4 linked regions of the Homo sapiens genome follow. The protein of the gene in region 3 interacts with the protein of the main gene of each other region in a biochemical or structural test. Each region holds a gene or a part of one and is shown on either strand. Other genes may lie near its edges.

The links.
Region 1: the proteins of UBE2C (region 3) and ANAPC11 form a complex in vitro, tested with the Homo sapiens proteins (66 studies listed by BioGRID).
Region 2: the proteins of UBE2C (region 3) and RNF7 form a complex in vitro, tested with the Homo sapiens proteins (4 studies listed by BioGRID).
Region 4: of the proteins of UBE2C (region 3) and UBA1, one has a biochemical effect on the other in vitro, tested with the Homo sapiens proteins (5 studies listed by BioGRID, with this or other methods).

Annotation. Positions count from the first base shown.
Region 1 is NC_000017.11:81,887,029-81,894,734, reverse strand, and holds the start of ANAPC11 (anaphase-promoting complex subunit 11), read right to left. Parts: upstream 3,013-7,706; 5' UTR 2,894-3,012; exon of another isoform or gene 2,872-2,893; intron 2,809-2,871; exon of another isoform or gene 2,629-2,808; intron 1,632-2,628; exon of another isoform or gene 1,548-1,631; intron 1,184-1,547; 5' UTR 1,121-1,183; intron 269-1,120; 5' UTR 258-268; coding exon 149-257; intron 1-148. Other genes in the region: ALYREF (THO complex subunit 4), read left to right, coding at 3,155-3,412, 3,915-4,046, 5,406-5,553, 6,152-6,215, 6,317-6,494, 6,590-6,604. UniProt on the Homo sapiens protein: Together with the cullin protein ANAPC2, constitutes the catalytic component of the anaphase promoting complex/cyclosome (APC/C), a cell cycle-regulated E3 ubiquitin ligase that controls progression through mitosis and the G1 phase of the cell cycle.
Region 2 is NC_000003.12:141,741,292-141,748,075, reverse strand, and holds the end of RNF7 (RING-box protein 2), read right to left. Parts: intron 5,433-6,784; exon of another isoform or gene 5,169-5,432; intron 4,568-5,168; coding exon 4,520-4,567; exon of another isoform or gene 4,519-4,519; intron 2,918-4,518; coding exon 2,799-2,917; 3' UTR 516-2,798; downstream 1-515. UniProt on the Homo sapiens protein: Catalytic component of multiple cullin-5-RING E3 ubiquitin-protein ligase complexes (ECS complexes), which mediate the ubiquitination and subsequent proteasomal degradation of target proteins.
Region 3 is NC_000020.11:45,808,488-45,815,660, reverse strand, and holds the start of UBE2C (ubiquitin-conjugating enzyme E2 C), read right to left. Parts: upstream 3,018-7,173; 5' UTR 2,966-3,017; coding exon 2,865-2,965; intron 2,667-2,864; exon of another isoform or gene 2,371-2,666; intron 2,225-2,370; coding exon 2,197-2,224; intron 1,278-2,196; coding exon 1,191-1,277; intron 272-1,190; coding exon of another isoform or gene 121-271; coding exon 1-120. Other genes in the region: DNTTIP1 (deoxynucleotidyltransferase terminal-interacting protein 1), read right to left, coding at 4,466-4,604, 4,721-4,776, 6,476-6,547. UniProt on the Homo sapiens protein: Accepts ubiquitin from the E1 complex and catalyzes its covalent attachment to other proteins. In vitro catalyzes 'Lys-11'- and 'Lys-48'-linked polyubiquitination.
Region 4 is NC_000023.11:47,196,829-47,203,849, forward strand, and holds part of UBA1 (ubiquitin-like modifier-activating enzyme 1), read left to right. Parts: exon of another isoform or gene 1-162; coding exon of another isoform or gene 163-196; exon of another isoform or gene 197-1,374; coding exon of another isoform or gene 1,375-1,527; intron 1,528-1,562; exon of another isoform or gene 1,563-1,628; intron 1,629-1,974; coding exon 1,975-2,091; intron 2,092-2,219; coding exon 2,220-2,278; intron 2,279-2,380; coding exon 2,381-2,549; intron 2,550-2,651; coding exon 2,652-2,786; intron 2,787-4,065; coding exon 4,066-4,172; intron 4,173-4,447; coding exon 4,448-4,538; intron 4,539-4,649; coding exon 4,650-4,782; intron 4,783-5,327; coding exon 5,328-5,425; intron 5,426-5,529; coding exon 5,530-5,676; intron 5,677-5,809; coding exon 5,810-5,986; intron 5,987-6,114; coding exon 6,115-6,219; intron 6,220-6,305; coding exon 6,306-6,386; intron 6,387-6,712; coding exon 6,713-6,868; intron 6,869-7,021. UniProt on the Homo sapiens protein: Catalyzes the first step in ubiquitin conjugation to mark cellular proteins for degradation through the ubiquitin-proteasome system.

The sequences.
Region 1 (7,706 bases), on a different chromosome or scaffold from region 3:
AAAAAAAAAAAAAAAAAAAGAAAATGAAACTGGGTATTTCGTGCAGGTATTTAACAGGAGCTACTGAGGCTAGTCCAGCAGGCAGCAGACAGCACAGAGGGGACACTCACAGTCGGGGCCGCTCAGACAGCATGGAGGGGACACTCACAGTCAGGGCAGCATCCGTTAAATGCCATCCTGCAGATGCCACAGTTCTCATCGTTGGCCACCCAGAGCCAAGTGGCCACGCCGTTCCAGCACTTAATCTTCACCTTCATGGCAGCAGAGCCTGCGGCGGAGGGAACAGGACGACTGGCTAAATTGAGTCTGCAGAGCTAGAACGTTTAGGCACCAACACAGGTATAAGCCTGCCACAGTGCAGTCCCAGCTACTCAGGGGGCCAAGGCAGGAAGATCATACCGGCCCAGGAGTCCGAACCCAGCCTGGGAAACATCGTGAGCCCTGTTTCTATTTTATTTTACTTTTATTTTTATTAATTTTTTTTTTTTGAGACAGAGTCTCACTCTGTCACCCAGGCTGTAGTGCAGTGGCATGATCTCAGCTCATTTCTTGTGCTTCGGCCTCCTGAGTAGCTGAGGCTATAGGCACGTGACTCCACGCCCGACTAATTTTTGTATTTTTAGTAGTCGAGGTTTCACCATGTAGGCCAGGCTGGTCTTGAACTCCTGGCCTCAAGCGATCTGCCACTGCGGCCTCCCAAAGTGCTGGGATTACAGGCGTGAACCCCTATGCCCTGCTATGAGCCCCGTTTCTATTAAAACAAATAACAAGTAAAGGGCTCTGGGCCCAGAGGGTCAGGGCTGCAGGGGAGCTACGGGAGAACAGCAAGCCCCAGCAGCAATCCGCTTTGTGGCTCACACCTGTGATCCCAGCACTCTGGGAGGCCAACTCGGGAGGATCGCCTGAGCTCAGGAGTTTGAGACCAGCCTGTGTAACACAGTGAGACTGAGTCTCTACCAAAAAAAAAAAAAAAAAAAAAGGAAAAAAAAGAACTATCTGTGAGGTTTCTTTAGCCATCTAGAGAAAGGGCACACTCTTCTCTCCAAGGGAAGGGACTCAGCTCCTTACGGACAAGGAGATCACATTTGGGAGCACAGGACAGTCAGGAGTTTGGTTTTACCTCACGTTGAGGATATCTTCAAAGATCTCAAATGGGCCTGGCCAACATGACGAAACTCCGTCTCTACAAAAAATACAAAAAAATTAGCCGCAGGTGGTGGCTCATGCTTGTAATCCCAGCACTTTGGGAGGCCGAGGAGGGTGGATCACTTGAGGTCAGGAGTTCGAGACCAACCTGGCCAACATGGTGAAACCCCATCTCTACCAAAAAAACAAAAATTAGAGGCCAGGCGTAGTGGCTCACGCCTGTAATCCCAGCACTTTGGGAGGCTGAGGCAGGCAGATCACAAGGTCAGGAGTTCAAGACCAGCCTGGCCAACATACTGAAACCCTGTCTCTACTAAAAATACAAAAAATTAGCCGGGTGTGGTGGTGGGCAACTGTAATCCCAGCTACTCGGGAGGGTGAGGCAAGAGAATCACTTGAACCTGGGAGGCGGAGGTTGCAGCGAGCTGAGATCACGCCAGCTCCCAGCTCTATTCGGGAAGCTGAGCCACAGGAATCACTTGGACCTGGGAGGCAGAGATTGCAGTGAGCCGAGATCGCACCACTGCACTCCAGCCTGGGCAACATAGTGGGACTGTCTCAAAAAAAAAAAAAAAAGCCAGCTGTGGTGGCGTGCACCAGCTGCCTGAGAGGCTGACGTGGGAGGATAGCTCGAGCCCAGGAGTTTGAGGCTGCAGTGAGCCAAGATCACACCACTGCACTCCACTCTGGGTGACGGAGGGAGACCCTGACTCAAAAAACAAAAACAAAAGCAAGTATCTCAAAACAACTTAAAATCCATGAAATGGGCTGGGTGTGGTGGCTCATGCCTGTAATCCCAGCACTTTGGGAGGCCAAGGCGGGCGGATCATCTGAGGTCAGGAGTTCAAGACCACCCTGGCCAACATGGCGAAACCCTGTCTCTATTAAAAATACAAACATTAGCCAGGTATGGTGGCACGTGCCTGTAGTCCCAGCTACTCGGGAGGCTGCCGCTGGAGACTCGCTTGAACCCAGGAGGCAGAGGTTGCAGTGAGCCGAGATCGCCCCACTGCACTCCAGCCTGGGCGACAGAATGAGACTGCCTCAAAAAAAAAAAAAAAAAATCAATGAAATGGCACACTGGTTTTCATTAATAAGTTGCAAAAATAATTTTTTTTTGGAGACAGGGTCTGGCTCTGTCGCCCAGGCTGGAGTGCAGTGGTGCCACCACGGCTCACTGCAGCCTCGACCTCCTGGGCTCAAGCAATCCTCCCACCTCGGCCTCCCAAGTAGCTGGTAGTACAGAAGTGCACCACCATGCCCAGCTCATTTTTTTTTTTAGAGATGGGGGTCTCACGATGTTGCCCCGGCTGGTCTCAAACTCCTGGGCTGAAGCGAACCTCTTGCCTCGGCCTCCCAAAGTGCTGGGATTACAGGCGTGAGGCCCGCGCCCGGCCCGCAAGAAAACTTGTAAAGGATATGACTGGCAAAATGTGACAGTGCAGACTTGGGGGGGCTGCAGGTGGAGACCAAAAAACCAACCCGCAGCTCGTCTGCAGCGGCTGCCGCCCGCCGAAGCCGCGCCCGCCGGACCCCACCGCGAGCCGAGCGCACAGTCCTGGGCGGGAGCGGAAACAAGGACTCCCAGCAGCTCCCAGGCACCCGCCGCGCCCGTAGCGCCCCCAGCGCCCCCAGCCCTGGCCGATCGGGCGGAGCGTGCGGGGAGGGAGGGGCGCGTAGGCTCCGCCTCCAACGGCCGCCGCCCCACCCCCTGCGCCCTCGCACCTTCGCCAACCTAATCACGCACCGCCCTACCCGCCCTTCCGTTGGCAGCGCCGGCGTCCGCGCGGGAAGGTATAAAAACGACCACAGTCGCGGCCCGACTCCCTCAACAGCGCCCGCCGAGTCTCGCACGCCAGTGCGCACGCGCCTCCCCGCCTCACCCCGTCCCGCGCGCGCAGCCGTCCGCCAGCGGCCAATCAGCAGCCGCTCCGAGGCCGTGGCACCGGAAGGCCTCACGCGGCGCCGGAAGTGACGTGCCGGCGTGCTGACGCGCGGGCTCGAGCCGATGCCCGATTCCGCGCCCGCCATGGCCGACAAAATGGACATGTCTCTGGACGACATCATTAAACTGAACCGGAGCCAGCGAGGCGGCCGGGGCGGGGGCCGGGGCCGCGGCCGGGCCGGCTCCCAGGGCGGCCGCGGCGGTGGGGCGCAGGCCGCCGCGCGAGTGAATCGAGGCGGCGGGCCCATCCGGAACCGGCCGGCCATCGCCCGCGGCGCGGCCGGCGGAGGCGGCAGGAACCGACCGGCGCCCTACAGCAGGGTGAGTGCGGAGGCCGGCCGCGCCGGAGAGTGGGAGGGGGCCAGCCGGGGCTGGGGCCGGGGCCGCTCGCGGCGGAGACCCGGGCCGGCGGGTGGATAAGGCTGGTGGAGCGGCCGCCCGGAGGTCCGGAGGGTGCGTGTGGGCGCGGAGGGGGTGGTGGGCGGGAGCGAGGTCGTTCTTTCGGGGTCCGGTCCCGGAGGCTGAGACCCTTCCCAGCTCTTTGTTTGTTCCGGACGTTGGGGCCTCGTGGCAGGAGAGGAGGGGACGCTGGGCGCGGCACAGGCGGCGGGAAGTTAGTCTAAGGGAACTGAAGTTGTGCGGCCGCGGTGGGACCGTGCGGCCTCGGGCTGGGGCAGCTGCAGCGCCGGAGGGAGCGCTGGCGGCCCCGTTTCGGCCGGATCCTCTCAGGCCGGGAAGAGGAAGGGTCCGGAGTAGCCGTGAGGGTCAGGAAAGCCCTGGACTGAGACTCACAGATCTGCTCTTGTTGCGGTTTTTTTTTCAGCCAAAACAACTTCCCGACAAGTGGCAGCACGATCTTTTCGACAGTGGCTTCGGCGGTGGTGCCGGCGTGGAGACAGGTGGGAAACTGCTGGTGTCCAATCTGGATTTTGGAGTCTCAGACGCCGATATTCAGGTAAGAGACGAGGGCTTCTCGGTGAGCCGTTCGCCCTGCACAGGACGGATCGTGATTTTGGGGATGTGGCCCTGAGTCCCCTTCCCGCCTTAGCGAAGGGAGCCCTCCCAGCTCTGAAGGGCTGCAGGACAGACCCAGTGCTAGTAAAGCCGGGGTCAGTGCGCAGGCAGGTGCGAGCCTAGCTGAGCCTGAGGAACTGCTGCTGTTAGTCTGAAGATGGGTTCTGTGAGTGAAAATCCCCTGCCAGGGCTTCCAGTTTCTAACAGGGACAAAGACTGACCAAATGTGAGTGGTTTTTGGCTGTTAGACCCAGCCCAGTTGCTTTTTAAATTTTGTGCCTGTCTTAGTGGGTTAATGTGAGAAAAAGAATCTTCTTTATGTATCTTGTGAAGCACAGGGAGTCTGTTTTTCTGGCTCTGTTTGCCTTGAGTACTGTCTTATAAAGACCTTGTACGCTGTGGTTTTATCACTCCCCACCGCCGTGTCCCGTCAGTGACATGACTCTCAAATCCATCTTTGGTTGAAGCTTTTCTTTTTTAAAAAAAGAAAAATTGAATCCCAATGGCATTTCAACTTGTTTTCTGGTTAAGAAATGACTTTTTGGGAATCAGTTTTGGAGATGGCTGGGCAGGGTTCAGTTGCCCACAGCCCAGCCATTTGCCTTGGGAGGACAGAGTAGGGCCAGTGAGCACTCACAGTGTCTCAACACTTTTTTTAAGGTGGTTTCTAGCATCCACTGGAAACCGCTTTTGGTGAACTCCAGTTCCCGCTGTGTGCCTGCGGCCGGAGTATCCCCACACTCTGGGTTCCCTCTCCAACTCCCAGCCTGCCTGAGGTCAGGGCAGTTTCCATGACAGCGCTTGACTTCAGACTTTGCCGCAGGCTTGAGTAGGAGGAGAGGGAAAGGTGAGCCAGAATCTGCCTTTGGGGGAGGGGCTGGGGTCAGGGCTCCCGAATCTACAGGCCCTTCAAGCTGGTCTGATATCGGACTGCTTCCCTTGCTCTTGATTTTGGCCTTTACCGTTTCTTGGAACAGCCCTTGGGTGTGTTGTACATTTTCCTTTGTTGAAGAGGATAGTGGCTTAATTTTGTGCCCGTTGCTAGTGGGCTTTGCAGCTTCCTCTACCTGCATCGTGGTACACGTGTCAGGTCCCCACAATGGCAGGAGCCCTCAGACCCAGGTGCTCTTGGAAGTTGCTGTCCCTCCTGCCCCGCCCTTCCCTCATTTCCCGTTAACCACTGTCCTGCCTCCCAGAGAACCACCCCCAAAGCAACTCACGCTTCCAGGGCCTGTCCCTGGGCCACCAGAAGGAACGCAGTTTTGTTGCTTTTCTGACAACTGCTCTCTGCAACTCCCAGGAACTCTTTGCTGAATTTGGAACGCTGAAGAAGGCGGCTGTGCACTATGATCGCTCTGGTCGCAGCTTAGGAACAGCAGACGTGCACTTTGAGCGGAAGGCAGATGCCCTGAAGGCCATGAAGCAGTACAACGGCGTCCCTCTGGATGGTGAGTCTGGGGGTGGACCCACGCTGACTGTGGGGCTTGTGGAGTTTGGGGCTGGCACCTGTCCAGGTAGGAATATGGGGTACCCCTGTGGCTGAGGACACTTTGCATTTGCCCCTTTGTCTCTCTCTTCCATCTGCCACCTCTCATGCTGCCCCACACATCTGGACCAACCTCTTGTGAACCCCCATCCAGCAAGCTACATCCCTCCCCTCCTTCAGCTCCTTCCGGAAGATTCACTTCTGTGAAGCCTTCTCAGAACCGCCATAGTACACCTCTGAGTGCGGGGCTGTAGTCGTAAAGACAAAGGTACCGGTTCTTCTTCGTCAGGTCACCCACACCTCTCCACCCACGAGCACCCCGATACCTCAGCGAGCAGCCCACCTAGTCTGGACTGAGAAGGAGTGAGGAGGTGTTGGTGGGGTTGCTTCCTTGCCATTTTGTTCTCCCACCAGTATCTCCAGGCCATTTCCCTTGTCGGGGGCATTTGAGACGCACAGAGGCCCTTTCCAGTGTTTGCATGGAGACCAGGGTGTGGCGCCAGCTGGGTGGGTTTCAGAGCCTCTCAATAGAACGTGCCTTCTCGTATTCTTTGCCGCAGGCCGCCCCATGAACATTCAGCTTGTCACGTCACAGATTGACGCACAGCGGAGGCCTGCACAGAGGTGACTTCCGGGGCCTCTGGGGAAGGGGATTGGCCGAGGGTGAGGCTGCGTCGCTCTTAGGGTCCTTCCGGGTGTGTGAACGGTTTCGTCTTCCTTGCTAGCGTAAACAGAGGTGGCATGACTAGAAACCGTGGCGCTGGAGGTTTTGGTGGTGGTGGAGGCACCCGGAGAGGCACCCGCGGAGGCGCCCGTGGAAGAGGCAGAGGTGCCGGCAGGAATTCAAAGCAGCAGCTTTCGGCAGAGGAGCTGGATGCCCAGCTGGACGCCTATAATGCGAGAGTGAGTCCCGGGGGAGCCAGCTGGGGGCCTGGTCAAAGCCGCAGTGGGGAGCAGGCCGCCTGTGAATGCAAGCCTCTTTCTCCTCTGTGTTTCAGATGGACACCAGTTAAACAGACCAGCAAATCCGCGTGCGGAACAGGACCCAGGCGTCTCCTCTTGCTCCCTGGTTGGGGGGCGGTGGCTGGGGCTGTGCGGCCAATGATGGATTTGTTTCTTTTATGTTTTAAAATAGGATTTAAAAACTCATGTAAAGGTTTTTTTTTTTTCTTTTTTTTTTTTTTTAATTCTGAAACAGACCTGTTTTGTACCGAGTTATTTTTGGGATAAATTTTACTGGTTGCTGTTGTGGAGAAGGTGGCGTTTCCACCTTTTCCATAATAAAATAGAAATGTGTGTAGAACTGGAACTGTTTGATTCGTCCCACTGTTGGAGTCCAGGCCTGGGCCAGGATTTTGGTGTCTGTCCAGCTGGGAGGGGGTGGGAGAACCTGAGTTGGGGATGGAGGGAGCAGCCCCATCTGGTGTTGGACACCTGAAGTTGGCATGGGTTGTGGGGGTGGCGGGGGGTCCCCGCTCCTGGAGGGCCGAAGCTGCCTGTCTTCTTTCTTATCTTCTTTCCTGCCTCACACCTAACACCTTCCTCTCTAACTCACCAGGTGGGAGGACACCTTTGCCCGGGAGCCACCTGTTGACCCTTGTGCCTGTGCCTCCAGGTGAGGGGAGGTTGGGGTGGGATGGCTGCCCTGTGTGCCGTCCACAGGCTTCCCACAGCCAGAACATCTCTGGGCTGTTCCTTTCCTTCTTGTACTCTGGTTTTCAGAGAAACGTGGATTCAGCAGTTTTGACTTTGTAGTGTAATTCCTTTTTCTGTTTGTTTTTTTGTTGTTGTTTTTAACCTTGCCACGGAGCAAGGCATGAGGATCCTCTCTTAGTTGTATATTTGATGAAGTGGCTGGTGGAAGCTGTGATAATCCGTCCATTTAAGAGTGGGGCGGCTGGGCGCGGTGGCTCACGCCTGTAATCCCAGCACTTTGGGAGGCTGGGGCAGGCAGATCACCTGAGGTCAGGAGTTCAAGACCAGCCTGGCCAACATGGCGAAACCCCGTCTCTACTAAAAATACAAAATTAGCTGGGTGTGGTGGTGCATGCCTGTAATCCCAGCTACTTGGGAGGCTGAGGCTGGAGAATCGCCTGAACCAGGGAGGTGGAGGTT
Region 2 (6,784 bases), on a different chromosome or scaffold from region 3:
GATCTGTATACTGCAGCCTCAAACTTCTAGGCTCAAGCAATCCTCCCGCCTCAGCCTTCAGAGTAGCTGAGACTAGTGTGTGCACCACCATGCCTGGCTCCATGGCAATAACTTAAAAAGCAGCAAAGTGCTGCTTTTTCGTATTTCTTTTTTTTTTTTTGAGACAGAGTTTCGCTCATTGCCCAGGCTGGAGTGCAGTGGTGCGATCTCGGCTCACTGCAATCTCTGCCTCGTGGGTTCAAGCGATTCTACTGCCTCAGCCTCCCGAGTAGCTGGGATTACAGGCACCTGCTACCACACCCGGCCAATTTTTGTTAGAGACAGGACTTCACCGTGTTGGCTAGGCTGGTCTCGAACACCTGACCTCAGGCAATCCACCCACCTTGGCCTCCCAAAGTGCTTGGATTACAGCGTGAGCCAACGTGCCCATCCATGTCCAAGCATTTCTATATTGAAATACAACTGAATTACAAGTTCTTTTTAGTTCTGTCATATAACAATTACATACATTTAAATTATATGTGTAGGAAATATATTTATGAATTTCACTTCATGACAGTAAAGGGGGACACAGTATTTTTATAAAAAAGGAAGCAATGGGACTGACAGAATTAAGATTTACTGATAGCGGTCAGCTGTAATAACACAATTTGCATAGAGGGAAAATTAAATAGCGAAAGATAACTTGTTTGTTTCTAATGCAACAGTAAAATAAAATCAGCACATTTAATCAAATGGAAAGAAAAACCTGTTTGATGCTTAACTTTTGTATTGGAACCCAAAATTGTCCCGGCATGTTCCCTCTGATGAGTATGTATTAAACTTTCAGATGGCTGTGCAGATGAGCTGTAATCATCGCAGGCTGAGCAGCATCAGCGCTGCTTTGTCACAGTGCCTCCTCTTCCCTCAGATGCTGGTGTGTGGCATAAACAGGGCTTTGTTAGGTGGCGGGACTGTGGTTTTGCTGTGTGGAAAATCAAATTGTTACCACCATCCTCCACATTTCATTTATATACTGTCACACTGCCTAAAGTAACCTGACATTCTACTGCTTTCCTCTTCAATGCAAAGCCATGTATCTGGTTCACATTTTAAGGATGCAACCTTCTAAAAAGGTCAAACAGAAAGTTACTAAAACAGTTCACTGCACAATGATAAACATTTAAATGGCCAAAGATATTTGTATAATTTTTTCAGTAGCTAGAAAGACAACTGTGAAAAAATATAAAGAAAAATTTCCAGAGAAATGTGATCAATAAAAAGTAACCCATATAAAAGCATACATAATTTTAATTTTTCATTCTAATTGTTATCTTTTTAAACATTCTATGTATCCACATCCCTTAGATTGAAAAATTCAGAATGGCACACTGCATCTGCAGATGTGAAAAGTTAAGATTCTAAGGTTTTTTCTTAAATTCATATCAGTAGCCTCTACTACAGAAGAATACAAAATGAACTTGTGGTCCATTATTTGTTACAAAATAACCTCCCCTCAGTGTGAATCAGTTTGATAAAGTTGTTTAGTATTTTCTTGCACTCTTTCCAGGTAATAAACCTTAAATTTTATTATTGTCAAATGAAAGAGCAAATGAATATGAATTCTTTCAAATTAAATGAAAGTATTTACTTGACAAATTAAGGTTGCATATAAAATTATAATGACAATTCAAATAAGGTAAGCAGAATAAACCATTTATTAAAACACTGTGTGATAAACTTTTTGATCCAATGCTACACTGGTAAACATTTTCCCTCATTAACATGTTACCTAAAACACAGTTAAATTATATCATCTGGGCCAGGTGCAGTGGCCCACACCTGTAATCCCAGCACTTTGGGAGGCTGAGGTGGGCGAATCACCTGAGGTCAGGAGTTTGAGACCAGCCTGGCCAACATGGGGAAATCCCGTCTCTACTAAAAATACAAAAATTAGCCGGGTGTGGTGGCACACACCTGTAATCCCAGCTACTCGGGAGGCTGAGGCAGGAGAATCACTTGAACCCGGGAGGCGGAGGTTGCAGTGAGTTGACATCATGCCACTGCACTCCAGCCTGGGTGGCAGAGCAAGACTTCACCCCCACAAAAAAAAAAAAAAAAAATTATATCATCTGACCAGAACTAGAAAATACTTCTGTCCTTTACCACTCAATGATTGAACAGTGAGGTGAGTGCAGATCTAGGTTTTCTTGATGAATCAATGATACAGAATAGTAACTTTAAAGGCAATCAAAATTCCATATGCTCAAAAGTTAAATTTTATTTACCCTGTTCACTGGCCCAAACTTAAAATCCTTATATCACATAAAGATTTCATGGACCGTTCCCTCTCCCTGCCAAAAATACGTATTAGGAACAAATTAAGAGTAAGAGTTGGGTTTTAAACTGCACTTTATTTGTTACTGTAACATTCTTTTTTAACTGATCAACCATAAGCATGCAAAAAGTTCTCTGAAACTGCTTCCACTGCCTGTTGTATAGAAATGGGTAAATTATAAAGGTGATTCAATTTGGAGCTCTTTCCTTTTTTATAGCACTTCTAAGCTGTGTGCGCGACACACACCACAGAGGTAGGAAGGACCACCTTTAATAAATTATCTTCTTAATCGCAGAGAATTTCTGAAGATAAAACTGACAAAATGCTAAACCAAGGCTTTGATGAGTCCCAAAGGACCACAGATCCATCGGCTCCTATTTGAAGAATTCATCCCCTGTAGTGTTCTAGCCTTTGTAGGGCACTGGATTACAAGATCCACCAGGGCTCTGAACAACTGCGCTAAGAAGCCTTCTAACCACTCTCATTTGCCGATTCTTTGGACCACCCAGTCCTGCTGGCAGAGAGGGCAGCGATTGTTCTGTTTCACCCACAGGGACATGCAGCAGTTGTGGAAGGAATGATTACATTCTCCCCAGACCACTGAAAGAAAGAAAAAGAAGAGTTGACATTACATATTTCAATTTAAACACTGAACTCAAAATTATAGCTTATTTTATATTACAAATAATAATCTTGAAAAAAGATAGTTAATTGGCCAAAATAATGTTTTTCTATCTATAAAGAAACAGAAACTTAAATGTGTAAGTTACACAGAGACATAAGTCACTGTTTGAGAGCCTTTCCATCACTGTTCTAGAATCTATGGGTGATGTGATGACCCCTAGTTCCTACACAGCTCCACATGCTGTCTTCTTGAAGTTAGATGAATGTTCTTGAACCTTCCTTAGATCTGACCTTCTCAGTCATGCACTGACCTTAGAGATCTTCTGGGCTTTATTTTATGGGAAAATGTCCTTCCAATTTTTATTTACCAAGACAGAATGAGTTGTAAATGTTTTTAGTATGCAGTAGGCTATTATAAATAACATGCTTCTAAACATTCAGTTGTGCATCTGAGCTGAGCTGTTTTCTAGAAGTGATGAATTGTGTTAAGTCACCCATAAGCAGTGCAATTCCTCATGTGACGATGAAATTTTCAAAGTGGCTGGCTGGAGAGAGAGGTCTCTCTGTGATCAAAGAAAGTGGCCTGCCCCTCACAATTCCCAAATTAATACTTTTTAAACAAGCAGCATGAAAGAAAAACTTTAAAACAAGGGAAATCATCCACAATCTAGAATGCAATCTCGAATTTGGGATTCATCTGTCCCTTGCTTGATCAACTGAGCTATATGACAAGAGAAAAAGATTAAATGAAAGAAATAAGGCAGAGAAAAAGATTAAATGAAAGAAATAAGGCAGAAAAAAAGAAAAAAATGCCTATGAAAATTGGCTACAGGGGGTAGGAAGCAAGGGTGAAACATTCTAAGCGTTTCAGGAGGAAGAACTGGATCAAAACTGCAAGAATCAATATTAAGAAGTTCTATGTACACCATGTATTTGTGTTCTACGTACACCATGCAAACACAAAATACAAAGCCAATCTTTTATTCTAAGAAAATCTATAAACATGTTTATATAGCAATCTAGACTTGATCACCTCAAGAACTAGGGCATAAAAATCTTTGAACTGCCTAAAATATTTAGCCTACGACAACTTTTGTAGTCTAAGACTCTAAAGAAAATTTGATACACAAACCACATTCCAAAAATATACTTGAGACTTAGAATTTTTCTACTCTGGTTTTAAAGTTAAATACTGTATTATAAGAGTATTGAAAAGTGAAATGCCTTATTAGAACCAAAAGTGACCTATAACATAGCCAAAATTCAAATAATGTTTTGACAAATTTCTGATTTTATAATTTTCTTAATAGAAAATATTTAATTTTTGATTACCAAAATGTTTATTATGACCATGTCTGGAATATATAACCAATTCTTCTTAATTATGGCAATAAAAGGACTTGCAGGTTCATTCCATTAAACTCTTTTGAGAACCAACATATTTTATATTAACAATGGATCACTGCTTTACAGTTTATTTTTGTGTATTGATAAAGTCAATCTTAATTTCAAATTCAAACATCCCTACTGAGAGAAAACCTTCAGTTGAAAAAGCAAGAGAACAAAATTACAACATACCAACACAGTCCTCTTGTTTGTTTTCAGCTTGACATCTAAGACAGGCATCTAAAAGTAAACAAATAGCGATTCTCATTCTGATGCTCAGAATGCAATTTTTAAAAACCAGACACTTCAAAGTCAAAAGCCCTAAGGGTTAGGGATGGCAATAAAGACTCATACTATTAATTTCTCATCTGAACATAACTACTTAAAGAGGAATAAAGTACAAGGCATTCTACTAATTATAACCAGGAGCAATTTCACAAGGGTTAACAAATCCTCTATTTTTATAAGCTCTGATGAAAAGATGTCCTGACGGTGCCAAGAGAGAAAACTACTAGAGAAAAATATGCCATACTCCACTATATTCAAAGTTACCATACGCTTACTGGGCATGCTCATGGACAGTTTATTTTCAAGACACCCTTTAAATAAACCATATATATATGTTAGCATTTGTTTATACATACATCAAGAAACACTAGGATACCCAAGGAACCAATAATAAAGTTTACTGGGAGGGTTTGGAATGGGAAGGAGAGTTTTCACTCTTCCAGGTAATATACATAACTTCCTCAATTTCTGAACTATATGAATATATAACTTATAAAAAATTAAATTAAAAAATTGCTTCATAAACAAGTTTTTTAAAGTCATCCATACTTACTGACACAGAAGCCTTCCTTTAGCAACTCATAAGAAGCAACTTTTTACTTTCTACCCTAAGACACTTGAGAGTTCCTCTAAAATAAACTGCTTTGTATGCTTCCAATAGGTTGCTACCGATGGTCATCCAGACAAGGCTGGTGAGAAGCCAGTGAGACAGAGGGGACAGCGAGGGCTGTGGAGCCAGATCTACAGTCAAATCCCATTTCACTGGCATTTATTAGGTTCAGGGCCTCGGACCAATTACGAACTCCAATTCCCTCATCTGTAAAAAAGGGACAATACTGTGAGGTATTTATATATTAAGTGGGGATGATACAAACTGGTGAGAATTTTACAGATAAAATAAGTAAATACTAGATATCCCTAAACACTAAGGTTTTTTCTTTGTAAGAAAATGCTCGCCTGTAATCCCAGCACTTTGGGAGGCTGAGGCGGGCGGATCACGAGGTCAGGAGATGGAGACCATCCTGGCTAACATGGTGAAACCCCGTCTCTACTAAAAATACAAAAAATTAGCCGGGCGTGGTGGTGGGCGCCTGTAGTCCCAGCTACTCGGGAGGCTGAGGCAGGAGAATGGCGTGAACCCAGGAGGCAGAGCTTGCAGTGAGCCGAGATAGCGCCACTGCACTCCAGCCTGGGCGAAAGAGCGAGACTCCGTCTCAAAAAAAAAAAAAAAAAAAAAGAAAATGCTTGAGAGCTAAATGATGAGAACACATGGCCACATAGCAGGGAACAACACACACTGGGGCCTTTTGGAGGGTGGAAGGTGGAGAGGATCAGGAAAAATAACTAATGGGTACTAGGCTCAATACCTGGGTGATGAAATAATCTGTGCAACAAACCCTTGTGACACAAGTTTATCTATGTAACAACCCTGTACTTGTAGCCCTGAACCTAAAAGTTTTTTTAAAAAAAAAAAGAAAGAAAGAAAATACAGATAAGTCTGAGCCCAAAGTATTTACCCAACAATGGTAAAGTCTTTTAATAAATTACTTTATTACTGGTTTCTTGGGTATCCTTCTAGAATTTCTTGATGTATATATAAACAAATACTAACATTATATGTATGGGTTATTTAAAAGGGTGCCTTGAAAATAAACTGCCCATGAGCATGCCCAGTGAGCTTATAGTAACTTCTAATATAGTGGAGTAGGTGTAAATACTAAAAATGAGATCCTAAAGGCTGTACTAGAAGTTTTCAAAATTCAATCTGGAATACTATCAGCTTAATGAAAAAAGTAATATAGAATATTTTAGGGAGCAAAAATGGACTCATTCACTAGCTGGAAGAGGAGTCAGAGTTGGGTAAAAGGAAGTTTGAACCAACAGAAAATAGTTTTTAACATAAATAGGAGAAAAATAATTCTGTAAAAATAGAAACACGGTTAAGTTGAAGCCTGCTTCTCTTCTTACACTGGATTCTGCTCAGGCATTTGTTTGCTCCTTTCCACATGCTCTTACCCTTAAAAAAACACCACTGCCCTAGTCTCTTCAGTGTGGATTAAAAACAACCACTGCCTCCTGAGGTTTTCTTCAATCCCACAATTACTATCTCCTCTGTGCAAGGAGTTATGCACTGGGGACACCAAAATGACCAAGGCTGGGTCTCAAGGG
Region 3 (7,173 bases):
GTTACCCTGGGTGTCCACGTTGGGGTGATAGCAGGGCGTGAGGAACTTCACTGTGGGCGCATTGTAAGGGTAGCCACTGGGGAACTCTAGCGAGAGCTTATACCTCAGGTCTTCATATACCTGGCATTTGGAGAAACAGTTGCAGAGTAAGCTCCAGCAGCAGCCTCATGTCCCAACCCAAGCCCCACACAAGGGGCTTGCTAGAATCTTGAGTTTCTCTGGGACCGGACAGTAGACAAACTGTTGAGCTGGTTCTGATGCTCCCCACTGCCTTTTTAAAAAGTTTTTTTAGTTTAGTTTTTATTTTAGAGACAGGGTTTCACCATGTTGCCCAGGCCAGTCTCAAACTCCTGGGCTCATGTGATCTGCCTGCCTCAGCCTCCCAAAGTGCTGAGATTACAGGTGTGAGCCACTATGCCTAGCCTGATGCTTTCCTCTTATCTGGTGGAGACATCAGTGACTCTTTGGTCTAAGGATTGTAAATTGGCATCCTGTGCTTTAGTTCAATTAGAATATTAGTTGCTGGCCGGGCGTGGTGGCTCACGCCTGTAATCCCAGCACTTTGGGAGGCCGAGGCGGGTGGATCTTGAGGTCAGGAGATCGAGACCATCCTGGCTAACAAGGTGAAACCCCGTCTCTACTAAAAATACAAAAAATTAGCCGGGCGTGGTGGCGGGCGCCTGTAGTCCCAGCTACTCGGAGGCTGAGGCAGGAGAATGGCGTGAACCCGGGAAGCGGAGCTTGCAGTGAGCCGAGATTGCGCCACTGCAGTCCGCAGTCTGGCCTGGGCGACAGAGCGAGACTCCGTCTCAAAAAAAAAAAAAAAAGAATATTAGTTGCTAATACGTAAAAATTAGATTTGGCACAGATTTGGACTTCTGACTCATCTTAAACCTGATCTGCAGCAATGGGAAGCTGCCTTCTTGAGATCTGGCCCTATTGGCCAAAGTCCTCACTTCATCCATTTCCTTGCTGTCTGTCCCCCCATGTAAACATCTAAGATAGGCAGCCCTGCTTTAAACCCACCCTTTATTGCACAGAGGGAAAGAACAAGGCCACATGGCTCAGAGAATGTAAACAGTCACAGGAGGAGTGTCTTGCTCCGCCAAAGGCTTGAAGCAGAGCTCGCACTTGGATCTCACTTCCCACCTTTCCCCAGACTCACTCACCCATCCCAGCCCTACACTTACTGTTCCAGCTGCTCCATGGATGGTCCCTACCCATTTGAAAAGGTTGTCTGATTCAGGGAAGGCAGAAATCCCTTTATCGCCAGACATCTGGGGAGAAAACACATTTGTTGGAATGTGGAGTACACTTTTGGGCATAGCAAAGGTCAGTGGGTGAGCTTTCCCCTTAATTTTATATATATATATATATATATATATATATGCTCACATACACACACACACATATATATGTATACACACACACATATATATGTGTATATATATGAGATATAGATGGGGTTATGCCATCTCTACTAAAAAATATATATTTACATATATATATATATAGAGAGAGAGAGAGAGAGATTGAGAGAGAGAGATAGACAGAGACAGACACACACACACACTCTGTCGCCCAGGCTAGAGTGCAGTGGTGCGCTCGGCTCACCGCAACCTCTGTCTCCACGGTTCAAATGATTCTTGTGCCTCAGCCTCCCGAGTAGCTGAAATTACAGGCATGCACCACCATGCCTGGATAATTTTTGTATTTTTAGTAGAGACAGGGTTTTGCAATGTTGGCCAGGCTGGTCTCGAACTCCTGACCTCAAGTGATCCGCCCACCTTAGCCCCCCAAAGTGTTGGGATTATAAGGTGTGAGCTACCGCGCCCAGCCTCCCCTTAATCTCATCACTCTGATCCAAAATAAAGCAACCAAATTCATAGGCTAGAAATACCAAGAAGGGCGGGGAGTTGGGTGTGGGTAAAGCTTGGTTGGGGCTAGGAAGTAGGGACACACTGGATAGGGAGGGTCTTGTATGACTTCAGGGAAGTGTTCGAGATAACTTCGTGTGGGGGGATGGAATTGGGAGGAGGGACTGCTGGAAGAAATGGTGTAGGTGGGGTGTATGAACTTCTTTCCCAGGAGGGAGCAAATTACATTACCCCTATGTCTAGCAAAAAAGCTGACGGAAAAAAGGAGGCTACTGAAAATTGGATGGAAGGCTGGGGTTCTGGGCACTTAATCACTCACCATGAGGGTCATCAGCTCCTGCTGTAGCCTGAAAAAAGAGTATTCGGGGTTACCTGGGAGTCTGGATGGGCCAGGCCTCCAGACGGTGCATCTTCTCCCACCTGAATCTCAGGGGGAGCCGTCATGGAGGCTCCCCACATCACCAAGGTCAGGCTCAGCTCAGGGTATACTCACCAGATCCACAGGACGATCCTAGCGAGTCCTCACCCTCCCTAATTCCAGACTCCCTCGGGATGATTCTGGCATGTTCTTAATTCCCCAGGCTTTAGCATCTCTTCCTTGCCCGACTCAACTTCTCCCTTCCCCTGTCTCGGCCAAGTCACGAGGGTCCTTGAGCGTCTTCATCTAGGCCCACCAGGGAAGGAGTCTGGCAGCGCCCCTACCCTCCCATTCTCCTTCGGGAGAGTCTCAAAGAGCGGTCTGAGCTCCTGGCCTGTCCCCCATCTCTCGAATCTCACCCGCGCAAGGAGGTGGGAGTCCCGGAAGTCTCCGCCCTCGACACCCATGCCCAGGGGAATGCCAGGCCCCGAGCTCCTGGTGTGTTCTCCTGCACCCGCAGATCTCCCGCTCCAGGAGGTGGCGGCGGGGGGTGGTCCTAGAAATCTTTGCTCTGGGTACCAATGCCTAGGGCATGGCAGGCCCGGCGAGTGGTAGGCCGCATCACTCACCTTTTGCCCACCGGACCCCGGGCGGCGCCCCCGCTCGGCTCAGCTCCTTTACGGGCGGCGGCGACGCTAGTGGCGGCTGGGTCGCGGTTTTGGGAAGCCATCCGGGCGGCGTTGGCAGAGAGACAGGAACTCGGAGAACACGACTGCAACTGCAGGACTGCGGGCCCGCCCGCCCGCGTTTGAATTGTAACCCTCTGGGGGCGTCGACCAATCAATGGCTCGCTTGGGTTTGATCCAGCCAATGAGACGCTCCGGAGCGCTCTATTGCTGCGCCACTGCTAGACCTACCCACTGGCGCACCGCTATTGGGCGGCAGAATCCCGCTTCTGACAACCGATTGGTAGATGATGCTGCCATTAACTAACGAATCCGTAGCGAATTGGTGGCCGTTGGAAAACGCTAACCATTAAAGGGCCAAGAAAACGTCCACGTGGGATGAACCCCTCCTTCTGGCTACACGTCTTACTCCGCGTGGGAACACTCGGCACGCCCAGCCTTGATCCAATTTCCCTCGGGCAGGGAGTGCCTCCAATCCTGCAGCACTGGTACCCTCCCACCATTATAATCGCCTGGGCACCTTTGCTGCGTCCTAAGTATCTGAAAATCCCAGCGAGGGGAAAAACTAAAGGCTGATGGCCAGAGCAGCAGGCTCCCTATTAGAAAACATAGGTCCATACATCTCCGCAGAGATGACAGAAATAAAAAAAGGCAACATTGGTTCAGGCTGGTCGCAGTGGCTCACGTCCGTAATCCCGAACACTTTGGAAGGCCCAGGCAGGAGGATCACTTGAACCCAGGAGTTCGAGACCAGCCTGAGCAACAGGATAGGGAGACCTGTCTCTACTTAAAAGAAAAAAAAAAAAAAAGAAAAGAAAAAAAAAAAAGGCTGGTGAGGTGGCACGAGCCTGTAGTCCCAGCTACTGGCGAGGCTGAGGCGGGAGAATCGCTTGAGCCAGAGGCTGCACTCTAGCCTGGGCAACAGAGCAAGACTGTCTTCAAACAAACAAAAACCCCAACAACACAGGTTCATATCCTGTATATCCTACCTCCCCAGTGGGTAGTGTGTAACCTTGGGGCGGGTCCTTTAGTATCTTAACCTGTAAAATGGGAGCAATAAAAGCCAACTCTATTTTTCATATGATCTGTCATCAAACTCCATCGCATTCTGCCATGTCCTTACATTAGCTGGGTAAGGAAACTACAAATGGGCAAAGGGAAGACGGGCAGGGTACATGGTGCTCCCAGGTTGGTCTTATCAAGCCTGGCTCTATACTGTTATGGGTGAGGGTTATCTCGTCCTTTTTTCCTACACCCACTTCTAGAGCCCTTGATGTTCTGTCAATTCCCACAAGGTAGAGGGCACAGCAGGTTCACCATCTGTGTTTACTACAAACTGTTTAATTGTTTCTTATCCCAATAACTTTACAAATATAGAACCACATGCTAGTCTGGGGGTGCTGTGCAGTGAGTCACTACAAACTCGCTCAGGCACAGCTTAATGCCGCTGAGATCCATCTAGGAGCAGTCCCAGCGGTGGCCTCAGCCACGTGAGGAAGAGGGCTTTGGAGGAGGGCTGCCAAGTGTGGCCAGGGGACCCGGCCTCAGGTCTGTGGAGGTGCTTCAACAGCACGATGCTCATTCTCTGTCCGTAGTGTCTCCATATACTTTCTCATCTTCTCCACCATCCAGGAGGGTAGGACAAAGGATTTCAATTCCTCTAGCTTCAGATCCAGGCATCCTCTGGAACAGACATTGAAGAGAGAAGTTGGGGGAAGTGAGGATGTAGGCCCTGCCTCATTCTAGGGGCTATTTGGAGGCAGGGAGAGGAGAAGGGGCAGGAGACCCACTGGTTTTACCTGTAATCATCACTGGCCGCAAGGTCCCGGATGTCCTCCTCGATGAGGAGGTAGGCCTGAGGCAGGAGCAAGGGAGAGTGGTCATTGCCTGATTCATTTCACTCCAACTCAGTAACACTTCATTAAACATCTGTTTAATGTAAGGCCTGCTACTAGGTGGAAGCGGGGGATGCGGTTTACAATTTAGTACGGAAGAGTAAGTGGGGAGGGATGGGAATGGTTCCTTGAGACAATCTTTTACTACAGTAGATGCTTCATGGATGGGAGAGTAGGGACTGGTGACTTATTTATAGCCTTCTCTTTTAAAAAAGGACCCATTTCTCTCTTGAATGGTGTGGTGAAAATTAAGAAAAAAAAAAAAAAAAGAAAAAAAGAAAAAAAAAGGGATCCACCATTGCTCCTACACCTTTTGGTTAAGATCAAGTATACGAAAGGACCCAAGGTGGGTTATAACAAAATGGCAAGAAAGCCAGCAAAATATATATGGAAACAGGAAATCAGGAAGAGGAAACCATGTGCTCCCTCTGAGGACAAAGATAACTTGGTTTTGAACTTTGTGGCAAAATGGAAAACATGATAAACTGCTCTGCTGTCTAGTAATTGGCCTGTATTGTACTGGGGCCTGTAGAAATGCTTTGTCACAATGCCTCGGTCTACAGTGGGTGAGGGCCCTTTTGTGAACTTAACATATAGGAAGAGATATTCATCATATTAGAAAGTCTTCTGTGGGAGACTTTCTAATGTTAGGGTCAGGAATAATTGTGTATTCCTTGAGTAATTTGTCTACATCTTATGGGCACTATGAACCATAACAGATCAGGTGTCCATGAGTGGGGCCTACAGCTGAATTTGCCAACATCTGTAGAAGTGCACAGGTCTCCCAGGTCAGCAATATAAAAAACACTTTTTTTTTTTAAAGAACTACTTTTACTGGTGGCTTAATTTTAGGTCCTGCCCCCACCCCCTACCATCTATTTCTTATTTATGTAATGTTGCATTTTATGTGCATGAAGCTTACCTGAAATCTTTTTTGAAGTAAAGCATAGGCATAAATAGAGTAGTAAAATAAAATAAAAGGTAGCTCTCACTGCCAGAAAGGAGATGGCATATCAGTTTGTAAGGCACTTAGATTCTAAAAGGAGCAGTACCTGTGGTGGGAGTGAGTGAGTCCTCAGGTGGGGGACATTGTGTGTGATGGACAAAGCCCTCAACAATAGTTTTTGAACACATGCAATGATGATTTTCCTAAGGTTGCTGTTTCATATGATCTGAGAACTCTTCAAGTAGAGGTAAATCTGGAAGGGGCTGCCAAGTGTGCAAACACATTTCATTGCTAACTCCTACTGACAAGGGTTGCTGCCTCAAGTACTGTGTTGAGAAAAGATTCTATAGCTGTGTCTGGTGGAAGAGTGATCAATGAGTGAAATCTGTCAGTGGGTGCAGTAGTGGGAAAAAGTAGTACTGTGTGTCTTATACCTGCTATTCCTATGGACAGCTAATAGTATCCAAATATGTGATCTTGGAGGCATGAGGTAAAAGTGTGAGGGGGCGGAAGGGAGACCTAGGGATAGGGAAGGGAACCTGAAGATTACAATTTGCTCTTCAGCATGAAGAAATAGGCCTTATAAGTCTCTCTTCTCACACATTGGTGAGGCTTTGGAAGTCAGATTTGGAGGTAGGCTGTCACCCACAGCCAAAATCCTGGTTCCCAGGTGGGGTGGGTCACTGGCAGTGGCACAAATGAATAATGCTTACCATCTTGCCCCCTGTTGCCCGCATGTGATGCTGCTCAGCCAGCCAGTGCTTATCCTGGGGGTCAGCTGCATACTGTAAGGAATGAAGTTGTAAGAAAATTAGCCTCGGGTAAGGGGCTTTTCTCATTTGGTCCCAGAGCATACTCTTGGCCCTTGAGCAGTTCTTACCAAAAGTCCTTGTCTCCAAGCGTGGTGGACTTAGAGGGCTCACTAATCTCTTCAGAGAAAGCTAAGCCAACCCCGAGGGCAGACCATGGGACCCAATTCCCAGAGACTTAGTATACTCCCAATCCCCACCCCCTTCTCACAACAAAGCACCCCGGGCAACTGGTGGGACTGATAACTATTATTTTAGAGCTTCCTCTTTTTAAAAAATGATCGGAGGTGGCTTATAACGTCTGTAATTATTATGGTGACCATAATAAAACAAAAATCGGGACACCTCATGTACTCTCGGACGCATAATAGCATCATGGTTAAGAATTCGGTTTTGGAGTTACAAATAAGGTTGGTTGGTTTATTGATTGATTGATTGATTGATCGATTGAGACGGAGTTTCACTCTTGTTGCCCAGGCTGGAGTGCAATGGCATGATCTTGCTTCATCACAACCTCCGCCTCCTGGGTTCAAGCGATTCTCCTGCCTCAGCCTCCCAAGTAGCTGGCACTACAGGCATGCGCCACCACGCCCGGCTAATTT
Region 4 (7,021 bases), on a different chromosome or scaffold from region 3:
AATGACAAGGCAAGGAGATAACTAAGTAATAGAGGCCACTACACGTGCCCAGGGAGGAACTCACATCCTCAGGTCAGTGAGTTCTGACCACAGACCTTGGCTTCTTTAACCCTGCCAGCAGCCCCTTGAAGACAGTTTCATTTGTCCCAGCTTTTGGAGAAAATGAGGCTCAGAGGAAATGAGATCTCTACCCCAGGTCAGTCAGAGAGTCAGTAAATGGAAAATATGGTTCACCTTTGTCTCTACTAACTCACCAAGCCTCTTGCTACCCAGGTTGGCTCTTAGCATTCTAAGCAATTCACCTGGCTATCTCAGGGGCTCCAGCCAGCCTGCTGCCTCCCCTCATCTCCCATTCCTTAGCCCTGTGGACTGGGCCCTGAGCCCAGGGGCATTTGGCAAACAGTCCCCCACCAGCTGCATGCCTCTGGGCGAGTGAATGGGGTTCTCTAAGCCTTTCTTTTCCCATTTGTGATTTGGGCATAGGGTTATCTGGGTCATGGGGATTGTTAAGATTAGACAAAGCCCTTTCCTCTTTGATTGACACACAGTATGCTCTTGGTAGATAGTAGGGAGCTCTTGTCATTGTGGTTGGTGCTAGTGACAAGTGCCAAGATGGAATCTTAGGTACATTGGGATACTTAGTGTCATAAAAGTCTCAGTGTGGGAGGACTTGTGTGAACAGAAGACTCAGTGCCTAGAGGAGCACTTGGGGTGAGGGGAAGTGACGCTGGGTCCTCCCATCTCCAGCATGTGGACCCAGTCACCCCCACCACCAGATTTCACTTCCACAGCAGGCTTTATTGTTCTGTCTCTGGGACCTAGCAGGTGACCCTGGGCAAGTTACTTCTCATTTGTCCGGCAAGGACACTAAACTCTGCCTTGCTGGGTCAGGGTCATGGAGGGGATGAAACGTGATAACACGAGGAAGCAGCCTGGGCTTCAGAGTCAGCAGATCCTGGTCTGGTCCCAGCTCAGTGTGTGGGAACCTTGGTCACCGAACGTCCCTGAGTGAATTTTTTTCCATCACTTTAAAGTTGGGGGTATTATTGATAGCAGTCCAAACCCCACAGGAGTACCCTGAGGACAGAGTGAGACGAGGTTTAGAGAAGTGCTTACTATGGCATCTGGCACAAGGAGGACTCCTGATCAATCTAATACTCATTTATCATTGTGGTTAACCTGTTTAAGGGACTCCGCATGCAGATGAGGCTTGGGATGTGTTTGTTTTCTATCTTTTTGCAACCTCTTTTATTGGTCTGTGTCGGTTTTCCCCTCCCAAAGCTGGGGGCAGGGTTGGGCTTTATAAAACTTGAGCCCCTCTGGGGACTGGGTTCTCAGCAAGTTACCGCTCCTGCCATCATGCCACCCTGATGGATGTCCAAGCCTCACTTCCCTCCTGCACTCCCCGCTCCCGCCGCCATCCCTGGGATTAAGGGAGAGGAGAATGGCTGCTTGTTACTGCCTACCTACTCTGTGCCAGGTTCTATGCTCTGTGTTATTTATCATCTCGATAACCCCGTGGGGAAGGTAAGTGGTATTATCACCCCTGTTTCACAGGTGAGAAAACTGAGGCCTGTGGCGGTTAATTATTACTGTTAGTGCGTGGCAGGCTCAAGATTTGAAACCAGGTCTGTCCTGAATCCACATCCTTCCCCTGACCTCGACACAAGTACATTCTTGTCATTCCTTTCACTCCAGGATTGGAGTCTCTCCCTCATTATGCTGGGCTGGGAAGAAGCAAATGGCTTAGTGGTCAGCAGTGTGGATTTGCAAATCAGACCACCTGGGTTCAGATCTTAGGTCTGACAGCTGTGTTACCCTGGGCAAGTCCTCACCTTTCTGTGCCTGTCCCCTCTTTGCTGTAAAATGGGGGTACTAATACTTAAGTCTTCCCTTCCCCCACAGTTGCTACTAACAAACAGAAAAACGGTACCCATGTGCTCCAGGGTCACCTCTGACCTTTTTTTCCTCCAGATGTCCAGCTCGCCGCTGTCCAAGAAACGTCGCGTGTCCGGGCCTGATCCAAAGCCGGGTTCTAACTGCTCCCCTGCCCAGTCCGTGTTGTCCGAAGTGCCCTCGGTGCCAACCAACGTGAGTGTCCTCTCCGTGGAGACTGGCAGACGAGGTGGTGGGTGGGAAAGTCTTTTGTATCACTGTCTGTCTATCCATGCTCCACTCCTGTGTGTCTCCCTAAACTTGTTCTTTTCCTCTATTCCTAGGGAATGGCCAAGAACGGCAGTGAAGCAGACATAGACGAGGGCCTTTACTCCCGGCAGCTGTAAGTGGGGCCAAGGCCGGGCTGAGGGGTGTGGAATGGGACATTGAGAGGATAAGGTTGGGTGGGGCAGGCCCTGACCTAGAGTACCCCCTAACCTGGCAGGTATGTGTTGGGCCATGAGGCAATGAAGCGGCTCCAGACATCCAGTGTCCTGGTATCAGGCCTGCGGGGCCTGGGCGTGGAGATCGCTAAGAACATCATCCTTGGTGGGGTCAAGGCTGTTACCCTACATGACCAGGGCACTGCCCAGTGGGCTGATCTTTCCTCCCAGGTACCTCTTCCTAGCACCCTTCCCCCTTTCCCCCTTCCCGAGGCACCACTGTTCCCGGTGCCACAGCCATTTCATCTTTTTCCCTACTGCACACCCTTACAGTTCTACCTGCGGGAGGAGGACATCGGTAAAAACCGGGCCGAGGTATCACAGCCCCGCCTCGCTGAGCTCAACAGCTATGTGCCTGTCACTGCCTACACTGGACCCCTCGTTGAGGACTTCCTTAGTGGTTTCCAGGTATCTTGGGGGTACTACCCAGCCTTCTGCCCAGTTTTCTCAGAGCCCATCTCTGGTTTATTCAGTAGTGTTCAATATTGATTTAATGGGTCGGCCTGAATGTCAGGTTTTGTGCTGGGGGACTAGAGTATGCAGGCAGCAGTTAGCCCCTGGCCCTGCCTTTTCTTTTCTTCTTTTTTTTTTTTTGAGACGGAGTCTTGCTCTGTCGCCCAAGCTAGAGTGCAGTGGCGCGATCTCGGCTCACTGCAAGCTACACCTCCTGGGTTCACGCCATTCTCCTGCCTCAGCCTCCCGAGTAGCTGGGACTACAGGCGCCTGCCACCACGCCCGGCTAATTTTTTTTTGTATTTTTAGTAGAGACGGGGTTTCACTGTGTTAGCCAGGGTGGTCTCGATCTCCTGACCTTGTGATCCGCCCGCCTCCGCCTCCCAAAGTGCTGGGATTACAGGTGTGAGCCACCGCACCCGGCCTGGCCCCGCCTTTTCAAGTGGGGAAGATGTGTACAGACAGTACAGCATAGTGGTTGTGGGCACAGACTGTAGAGCCATACTGCCTTGCTGCAGGCCTCCAGCCTTGGTAGTGTGACTTCAAGCAGGTTGTTTCATCTCCTGTACCTTTGTTTTCCTGTTTGTAGTCAGTGCGTGGTAGCAGCACTGACTTCATGGACTTTTTGTGAGGGTTAAACACGTGGAATTGCAGCTGGCATATAAGGACTGGATGGGTGTTTGTTAATTAAAAAGTCCAGGCCGGAAAGAGGTGCTCTGGAAGCTGAGAGTTGTCCCTGGAGTATCCCAGGTTGCCAGGGCACTGCAGCTAAATCCTGATGGAGGAGTAGGAGCTCACCCTGGTGGGGAAGGATGGACATTCAGGCAGAGAGCAAAATCCCAAAGATCATGGCGGAGCAGGCGTCGTCTTGAGAATTGGAAGCAGGTGGGTGTGGTAGGAGTGAGCTCAGACTTTGGCTGGAGACAGAGTTTTACTCCAGTGTCTCACAGGGCATGGCAGACAGACAGCAGCGGGTGTTTGTCAAATAAATGAGTCAGCTCTTCTCCAAACTCCCTCCTCCCAGCTACCTCTTCACCTTTCCTGGTATAGTCCAGGGGTTCATTTTCGACCCCCACAGAGTCTGATACACAGTAGGTGCTATGTGTTTGTGAAAGAGGCTGACCCAGCAAAGCCTGGATGTGTTTGCCTTGAGGACTGCCTGAGTCCTCCACACCAGCCCTCCATTTTTTCCCCTTCACCCCAATGCTGGGCCTGAGCCTCCATCTCTCCACAGGTGGTGGTGCTCACCAACACCCCCCTGGAGGACCAGCTGCGAGTGGGTGAGTTCTGTCACAACCGTGGCATCAAGCTGGTGGTGGCAGACACGCGGGGCCTGTTTGGGTGAGTGGCAGCCCACCTCCCTCCCTGTCCCCTTTTCCCCCAACTCCTACCAAGCCCAGGCCAAGACTCTAGGCTCTCCCTGCCCTCATCCCTTCTCAGCTACCCAGGTTTTGGGTTCTGTGTTTTCATCTCTCCCCATGTGGCACAAGTACCATCTTACATCCCAGCAGTGATAGGCTGAGTTTGCTCAGCAAGTTTTCACTACATCTTGAGGGACCCGTGGGACCTGTATGTGCATGGGACACAGGCACCAGCCCTATTGCTTCCCTCTACAGGCAGCTCTTCTGTGACTTTGGAGAGGAAATGATCCTCACAGATTCCAATGGGGAGCAGCCACTCAGTGCTATGGTTTCTATGGTTACCAAGGTAAGGAGACCAGCCCTAGGGTTCCTGGCAGGCAGGTGGGCTGCAGTAGTCCTTCCTGTCTGCTCTTGGTACCCTGGGCCTGTTTCTGAGACTCACTCTTCCTTTAACCAGGACAACCCCGGTGTGGTTACCTGCCTGGATGAGGCCCGACACGGGTTTGAGAGCGGGGACTTTGTCTCCTTTTCAGAAGTACAGGGCATGGTTGAACTCAACGGAAATCAGCCCATGGAGATCAAAGTCCTGGGTGAGCTGCGACCATGGGGGAAGCAGAGGGGAACTAGAAGATATGTTCCTGGGTTCTGGCCGGGGAGTTGAAGGGAGAAGACATGGCCCTTGGTTCAGAGTTGGGAAGACACATCCTGGTGTTTGAGATGAACTACAGACAATCCTGTGGGGTCCAATAAGAGCTGGTGGGCATGGGGGAGAGGTACTGTGTTTGAGCTATTCCTGGGAGAATGTGTCCCTGGTATCTGAGCTGAGTGGGGAAAAAGTCTCTGGTGTTTGAACAGGGCAGATCAGCGGATCTACTTGTGTGTGAGCTGATTTGGATGGGAAGCAGAGAAGGTCTTCCCGTGTAGACTTGGAGCCAGGGACACAGGGTCTCACGGGGTCTGAGCTGAGTCTGGGGCACAGGAGAGATGGTTTCTGATGTCCAAGTGGAGCCTGGAGCTGAGGGAAGACAGCTTCTGATGTCTGAGCTGAGTCGGGGCAGGAGGTTCCTTATCTTGCAGGGGTTGTGGATTTTAGGGAGAATGGGTAGACTGACAGCTCTCTTCCTGCCCTCTGTAGGTCCTTATACCTTTAGCATCTGTGACACCTCCAACTTCTCCGACTACATCCGTGGAGGCATCGTCAGTCAGGTCAAAGTACCTAAGAAGATTAGCTTTGTGAGTGTGTCGATGGGATCAGTGGGCTGTGGGGGGTGGTTCTAGGCATTCCCTAGTTCTCCATTCCTCTCTTCTGGTTCTGATGACCTCTCCCCCCGCCACAGAAATCCTTGGTGGCCTCACTGGCAGAACCTGACTTTGTGGTGACGGACTTCGCCAAGTTTTCTCGCCCTGCCCAGCTGCACATTGGCTTCCAGGCCCTGCACCAGTTCTGTGCTCAGCATGGCCGGCCACCTCGGCCCCGCAATGAGGTGGGTGAGTGGGCGAGCCAGCCAGCGCAGACATGCCTGGCACTGCAGGCTCACCATGCCTCTCTGCGTGTCCACACTCCCTGCCCTCACTGTGGCCTGACATATCCTCTCTTGGTTCTTTCTGGCCCACCAGGAGGATGCAGCAGAACTGGTAGCCTTAGCACAGGCTGTGAATGCTCGAGCCCTGCCAGCAGTGCAGCAAAATAACCTGGACGAGGACCTCATCCGGAAGCTGGCATATGTGGCTGCTGGGGATCTGGCACCCATAAACGCCTTCATTGGGGGCCTGGCTGCCCAGGAAGTCATGAAGGTCAGCACGGGTGGGGAGAGGCAGGATTGGGGTGGGCCAGGTTCCTCCATGACTCTGTCACTTGCTCTCTGTCTGTGTCAGGCCCCTGTTAACCACTGACCACCCCCTCTCTCCCTTCCCCTCTCCAGGCCTGCTCCGGGAAGTTCATGCCCATCATGCAGTGGCTATACTTTGATGCCCTTGAGTGTCTCCCTGAGGACAAAGAGGTCCTCACAGAGGACAAGTGCCTCCAGGTATGTGGGTGGGACCTGTGGGGAGGGCATCATTGGGGACATTTCTGGGGAGGCCTCTCTAACCCTCCTCCCTTTGCATTCCTTAGCGCCAGAACCGTTATGACGGGCAAGTGGCTGTGTTTGGCTCAGACCTGCAAGAGAAGCTGGGCAAGCAGAAGTATTTCCTGGTAAGTGGTCCCCTTGGATGTCTGCTCCCCTCATCTTGGCCTCTGGCCATCACCCCTGGGGCTTCCTTCGGCATCTCAATGCAACCGGTGGCGCATTCTCTTTGCCATTCTCCTTATCTTGAAGGGAAGCCCAGTGCATCCCTCGTTTCCCCTTCTGGTGCCTCCTTCCTCACATGACTGCGTGTCATTTCTTAGAGTCCTGCAACCTGAAGATGTGGTGTTAGCCCCTCTCCCCGTCTCTCAGGGGAGTGAGGGGTGATGGGTAGCTTCACACTAACCTGCATCACCCTGACCAGCCTCTGCCTGTCTTCTTGGTTGCTTCTTAGGTGGGTGCGGGGGCCATTGGCTGTGAGCTGCTCAAGAACTTTGCCATGATTGGGCTGGGCTGCGGGGAGGGTGGAGAAATCATCGTTACAGACATGGACACCATTGAGAAGTCAAATCTGAATCGACAGTTTCTTTTCCGGCCCTGGGATGTCACGGTGAGTAGGGTAGGAGGTTGGGGCTTTGTCGTCTCACTTTCCTCCTTTTTCTTTTTTTTTTTTTTTTTGAGACGGAGTTTCGCTCTTGTTGCCCAGGCTGTAGTGCAGTGGCGTGATCTCTGGCCCACCACAACCTCTGCCTCCTGGGTTCAA